Regions from separate parts of the Homo sapiens genome. Here region 1 is linked to region 2. Evidence: fine-mapped expression QTL. A gene starts in region 2. The other region holds a variant in brackets. All regions are shown on one strand. Distances are from middle to middle.

Region 1 (2,897 bases), 54 kb before region 2:
AATGAAAGCATGTTCCTTAGGGCTGCACTGTGAGCACAGGCTCAGTGCTGGGTGCACGTACGGTACTGTGTGGTGGTAGAATGTGGCCATGGTGTTGGCTGATGACTGCATGATAGTTGTTGAGGCTGGTTCCTCTTGCTCCTTGGCCTCCGAATCTCAGTGCTGTGGCCTAGTGGGGCCTTGCCCTCTCTTGTAGGGGTTCCTAGGGGTTCTGCTGTGTTGCCAGGCCAGGCCGTAAGGGACTGAGGGGGCTGAGGAAGGCTTAGGAGAGCCAGAGCAGAAGCGTCCAAGCCTCTCTGGGCCATGAAGCCATGCACAGAGCAGAGACCCGTGCATCCTCATGGCCACCCAAGACTGTGGGTCCCAGAGGGTCCAGTTCCTCACCATGAGACCTCAGACTGTCCTCTTCCCTCTCTGTATCCAGCACTAGAATCTGTGATGCTGTGATTTTTTTTTTTTTTTTCTGAGACTGAGTTTCGCTCTTGTTGCCCAGGCTAGAGTGCAGTGATGCAATCTCGGCTCACCACAACCTCCGCCTCCCAGGTTTAAGTGATTCTCCTGCCTCAGCCTCCAGAGTAGCTGGGATTACAGGCATGTGCCACCATGCCCGGCTAATTTTGTATTTTTAGTAGAGACAGGGTTTCTCCATGTTGGTCAGGCTGGTCTCGAACTCCTGACCTCAGGTGATCCGCCCACCTCAGCCTCCCAAAGTGCTGGGAATACAGGCGTGAGCCACCCCGCCCCGCCAGTGCCGTGATTCTTAGCATGGTCTCCTGGCCTGTGGACACAAGGACAGCTGCTGGCTTGGGTTGGGCCCTGAGGCAGTTTGGGGTGACTTTGAAGAGGCTACTCAGGGCAGGCCTTGGGTTTGGCACCCTCCCTCAAGGGGTACATTTCATAGATGAGGCCTAGGCTCCCGTTATCTTTCCCAGAGTCCACCGCCATGAATCAGAAGGGAAAAGAGGTCATTCAGGTGCCTTGGGAACAGCGGAGGGATGCCTGAAATGAAGAGGCCTCCAGGGAGACGGTGCCAAATGGCCCAGCTCCGCGTGATCCGCGTCTTGTCCAGCACCTCCTGGCTCCTGCACAGGCGGTACCTGGGGCCTGAGGCGCCAGCGATGAACAGGTCTGGGGCCTCCTTTATATCAGGCCAGCCTTCCTCACCCGGTGCCTGAGTTTCCCTCTGTGCAGTGGAAAGGGCCCCACTGAGGGAGACACACCTTGCCCCAGAAAGACTTTCCCATGTGTGGGCAGGACCTGAGGCCTCAGTTTCCCTAACACAGAGATCTCTGACTTGGCAGTAGGAAGCCAGGCCCTGCTTGGTAGTGCTCCCCTTTGGGCACTGTGAACCCCTGGAAGCCGCTGGAGGCAGCCGAGTGCCAGAGACTGGCGGGAGGGAGGTGTGGAGTCTGTTGGTCTGTTCAGGCATCCGTTATAGGGCCATGCCACACACA[T/C]GGGTGGGAGTGTTGCCGGTCCCTTTCAAGACCTCGAGTCCCTGCCTCCCAGTGCCGGACCCGTGCTGAGCCTTCTCGGAGGGAATGAGGGGGGCCGGGGAGCAGCACCTGGAGGAAGGAAGAGACGCCAGGGGCGGGGCTCAGAGGGCCTTTGTCTGGCGGGGTCTCTGCCCCTCCCTCCCGTTGCCATGGTTTCTGTGTGTGCCGAGTCTCTGCAGGCTGGGGGCTTCCCAGGGACGGGCTGGTGGGTGGGACACCTTCCCCAGTCGCCCCTGGCTGAGGCTGCTTTTCTGAAACAAAACGCTCCCCAGTGCTGCCCAGCCCCCACTTCCTTCCACAGTGTCTCCGGCTGCCGGGCGCCCCCTGGTGGTGGCGGGGCATGGGTCCCTAGGACTGCAGGGGACGTGGGGGTGCACGGGATCTGAGAACCACAGGCTGAGCTGGAGATGTGGCACCTTCCTGGGATAAGAGAAGGAGGTGGTGTCCGGGCTGCCTTTGTGGTGGGCTCAGGGCTACCCCCACCTGCCCCACCATATCCCACTGGGATAGGCTGGGGAGTTGTGGCAGTGTGGGCGGGCCTGGTGTTGTGGGTTTGAGCTGGGCCGCTGCCCAAGTCTACCCTGTGGTCCCAGCCGCTGCTGCTTCTGAGAATCTCTGCCCTCGGGCCTGCCACGTCAGCTGGCTGCTCTTCCTGGCCCCACGTGTTCCCACGGAGCCCACCAGTATGGGGGTTCTCTCCAGGGAGGTGTGCCTGGCTTTCTGGGTGTGTGCAGCCAGTGAGCAATGTCAGCAGTGAGGCTCCTGGGCAGGAAGGAGGCCCCAGCTGTGTAGGAGTGCCGGGTTATACTGAAGGGAAGTGACGACACAGCGGAAAGCCAACAGAGGAGCCAGTAGCTCTGACTCCTGTCCCAGGTTATGCTGAGTCCCAGCAGGGAACCACCACAGCTCTGAATCAGCCTGTTAGCCGCTGTCCATTGCTCTTCATCTGCTCTTTATCTGAAAATCTTCAGAAGCTTTCCTTCAAATGAGATGACCACAGCAGTCTTCTCTGCAGGTTGCAGGAAATGAGAGGTTTGGGGAAATCTGTACTCTTTCAAAGGGTAGATAAATAGTGATAACTTTTACCTGAATGCTCACATGTGCCCCACACTGTGAGAAGAGCTTTGCATTTAATCCTTACCCATCTCTCAGAAGGAGACAGCGTTGTCCCATTTCACAGATGAGGTGCCAGAGAAAGGGCAGGAAAGGAGCTGAAGCTCTTGAGGATCTCAGGAAGGATCAGAGTGGACATCAGGGCTGTGGCAAGTCTGGACCTCCTTCTGGGAGAGGATCTGAAAATGGGAGGCAGGCTGGCTGGCTGCTTGAGGCTTGACAGCTCTGCCCAGGGGAAACTGAAGCCAGAAAGGATAGTAGCAAGTCCCAGCCTCCCAGCAGATCAAAGCC
Region 2 (2,897 bases):
ATAGGAAAAACTGCCCGGGAGTCTTCCTGTCCCTTTCTTCTCCCTATGTTCCGAGTCTCCTCCAGCTCCCAGCCTTTTCAACTACCTGGGCTATGCCCACTGCCTTAGTGGATCCTGGGGCCCCACTCATGCACCCATCAGGCTGAGCTTTGGCCTGTCTTGACTGCCTTCCCCACCTGGAGCCCATGGCCCCCTTCCCAACTCTGCCCATCTCAGGACACTTTGGATATAGACCCAACTGTCTCCTCAGATGGGGCCCCAGCAGCACCAGCACTGGGCCTGGCCCACAGTCACACAGCAGTATTGCCTCTGCAGGCTTGGTTCCCCACTGGCTTGAGTTTCGCAGGCACCCTAGATAAGGACCACAGCTTCCTTCCTATATCCACAGGGTGTCCAACGGTCACCAGGTTGGGGGCCCAGACCTCCTGTGCCCAAACCCTACTGTTTTCCCATCTTAACCAAGGTCCTGCCGTCCGGCAGGTCTATGCTGGGGGTTTTCTAGTCGTGGGCGGGCAGCTGAGCCCCCTCCTTCTACTCACCTGCTCCAGAGGGGGCCTCCTGGCTCCCCTTACCTCTCCTGAGCTTGAGGCCAATTAAACACTGGTCAGTAACAGGCACCCCCCTCCCCTCACCTCCCACACCATTCACAGGGCTGTAAGCCCCTCACCTGCATCAGCCACCTCTGCAGCAGCCGCACCCTTTGGTCTAGAGGGAGGAAGCCCCAGGATCCGCCCCTAGGGCTGAGCCCGGGGCTTCCCCGCGGCCTTAACCCCTTCAGTGCCGACCCCACCCACTGTGGGCGGGGCTCCGGGGTCCTCAGAGAGTGGCTTCTCCGTCTCTCCCGGGCCTCGGTTTCCCCCTCCCTCCTAGTGGGTCACAGGCTGTGGAGCTTTTGGGAATGAGGACTTCGAGAGCTCGACTCTGTGGGCAGGTGTGGCTCGGCATGGTCTGGAAACGAACGACTGACGCGGGGAGGGCGTGCAGGGTGGCATGGCCACTTGGGGACCGCACGCGCGGGGTGGACCTACAGGCAGCAAATGGGAAGGGTGCGGTACTGACATGTTGATGCTGGCCTCTGGGATGTTCCGCGTCCTAGCTCCGCACAGCTGGGTATCTCACTCAGTCGCCACCTCGGACTCCTCGGTCCGACAACGTTGGCCCCCAGCGGTGCGGCGGATGTTCTGCAGCCGTCGCGTCCTGCGGCACGCCACGGCGTTCTAAGGCCTCCCAGCACCCGCGCGTCGCCGCTTAGAACCCGCCCCTGGTTTGCGCGTCACAACACCCGCCAGGCGCCGACTCAGTCTCTACCCTGGCTCCGCCCCTGCTGAGCCCCACCCCATCTCCATTTGAGTCCGCCTCCTCCCCACCCGGCCCCATACAGGCCCCTCCTCCTTCTCCTTGCGTCACAGCTTAGGTCCCGCCTCGATTTGGCTTCTTCCAGGCCCTGCCCCAGCCCAGCACGTCACTTCAGCCAGGCGCAGGCCCCGCCTCCAGCTGGCTCTGCCTCCGCCAGCCCCGCCCCAGGCTCTGACAAGTCTAGCTTCGGTTCCCGCCGGCCTCCTGCCCCAGGACAGCTTGGAAACGGTCCGATCAGGTGGGGCTTCCTCTTGAAATTTGGGCCCCACCCTGGGAAGCAGCCGCCCTTAGACTGACGTCAGATCTGGTGAGAGTGACAAGCCTTTCCTGTGCCCTTTGGATACCGGGGCCTGGACATTTTAGGCGCTCAGTAAACAGCTAAGTAAATCATGACTGCTTTATTTGCTGGACTGGTGCCTCTCAGCAGATTCAGGGGTCGTGCAGGGCTGGTTACCACAAACTCAGTAGGAGTGCAAGGGCTGTACCCCCGGAGCTAGACAGCCTGGGTTTGAATCTCAACTTCTCCCTTTTCTTGCTGTGCAACCTTGGGCAACGTGCTTACTCTCAATGTGAGTGACTCAGTTTCCTCATAGCCTCATTGTGAGGAATGAATAAGTCCACATAAAACGCTTAGCACGGGGATTGGCAAAGAGTAGGCACTCAGTGAATGTCAGCCTTTGTGATTGCTGCAGTTCAAAGACTGGCTCAGTGTCTCTGGAGGAATTGTCTATGACCTTGCCAAGTAGATGCATATGGACATGGAATGAATGGTGTCTGCTGTGGTTCTAACTCCTTATGCCACTATTCCAGTCTGTAAGTATGCATGTGTGTGCAGGGAATATGCCTGTGACAGTGGCTGAGTGTACTCTTTACTGTGACCATGACTTGTATGACTGTGCATGTATTTGAGGAAGCCCTGGCCAGACCCAGAGTGCATTAGGTTCTCAATATGTGCAACTCAGTGTGTGGCCAATCACCACATGCTCTTCCGCTCACACCACGGTGCCTGCCAGCCAGGGTAGCATCGACATTTGAACTCCACAGCCATCTGTGCCTGATCTTCAAGTGAGAGGGCACCCCGCAGGCTCAGGGGCCCACCACCAGGCGTGAGCTGGATGGAGAAACTGGCAGGGTTAAGGAGGAGGAGGGCTTTGGGGTGGCTGGTGCGGCGGACACAGCGGCCATGGCCGGAGCACAGGGCTTGACTGCAGAGAAGGGCCCCACTGGTCACGTTCAGGATGAAGGGCCCCAGTGTAGTGTCCATATACTCCTTGATGGCCTGACATGATTCCTAGGTGGGAAGGGAGGATAGCGTCAGGGACACCATGGCCATGTATGGACCCACCCAGGGCACTGAGGCACTCACCTGCTGGTCAGCCAGGACTTTGCAGGTAGAAAGGGTAAGTCAGGGTCTACCCCGTCAGCTTAATGGCCCCACCCCTCCCCCACCCCCACCCTCATGCCAGGCCTAAGCTCACCTTGGTTCTTGTATTTTCCCAGCTCACCCAGAGCACCACTCCAGCTGCCCCCTGGGCCGCACT

Evidence for each region. PIP is the estimated chance that this variant, and not a neighbour inherited with it, causes the effect.
Region 1: its variant is fine-mapped to the expression of NAA80 in whole blood (TOPMed, PIP above 0.99).

What each region holds. Positions count from the first base shown.
Region 1 is chr3:50,244,551-50,247,447 of GRCh38, forward strand. The region is part of intron 1 of GNAI2 (G protein subunit alpha i2); the gene reads left to right. Among named protein-coding and RNA genes, the nearest start is that of GNAI2, 9.8 kb to the left of the region's middle. RefSeq lists enhancers at 1,089-1,804, 1,537-1,636, 1,805-2,520. The variant T/C (reference allele first, on the strand shown) is at 1,455.
Region 2 is chr3:50,298,154-50,301,050 of GRCh38, forward strand. NAA80 (N-alpha-acetyltransferase 80, NatH catalytic subunit) reads right to left here and starts at 1,252. Exons shown (of 2, transcript NM_001200016.2): 1 at 1,060-1,252. HYAL3 (hyaluronidase 3) reads right to left here and starts at 1,252. Exons shown (of 4, transcript NM_003549.4): 1 at 1,060-1,252. It overlaps HYAL1 (hyaluronidase 1), which reads right to left. Exons shown (of 4, transcript NM_033159.4): 3 at 2,835-2,897; 4 at 1,740-2,647. The coding sequence ends at 2,330. RefSeq lists an enhancer at 846-985.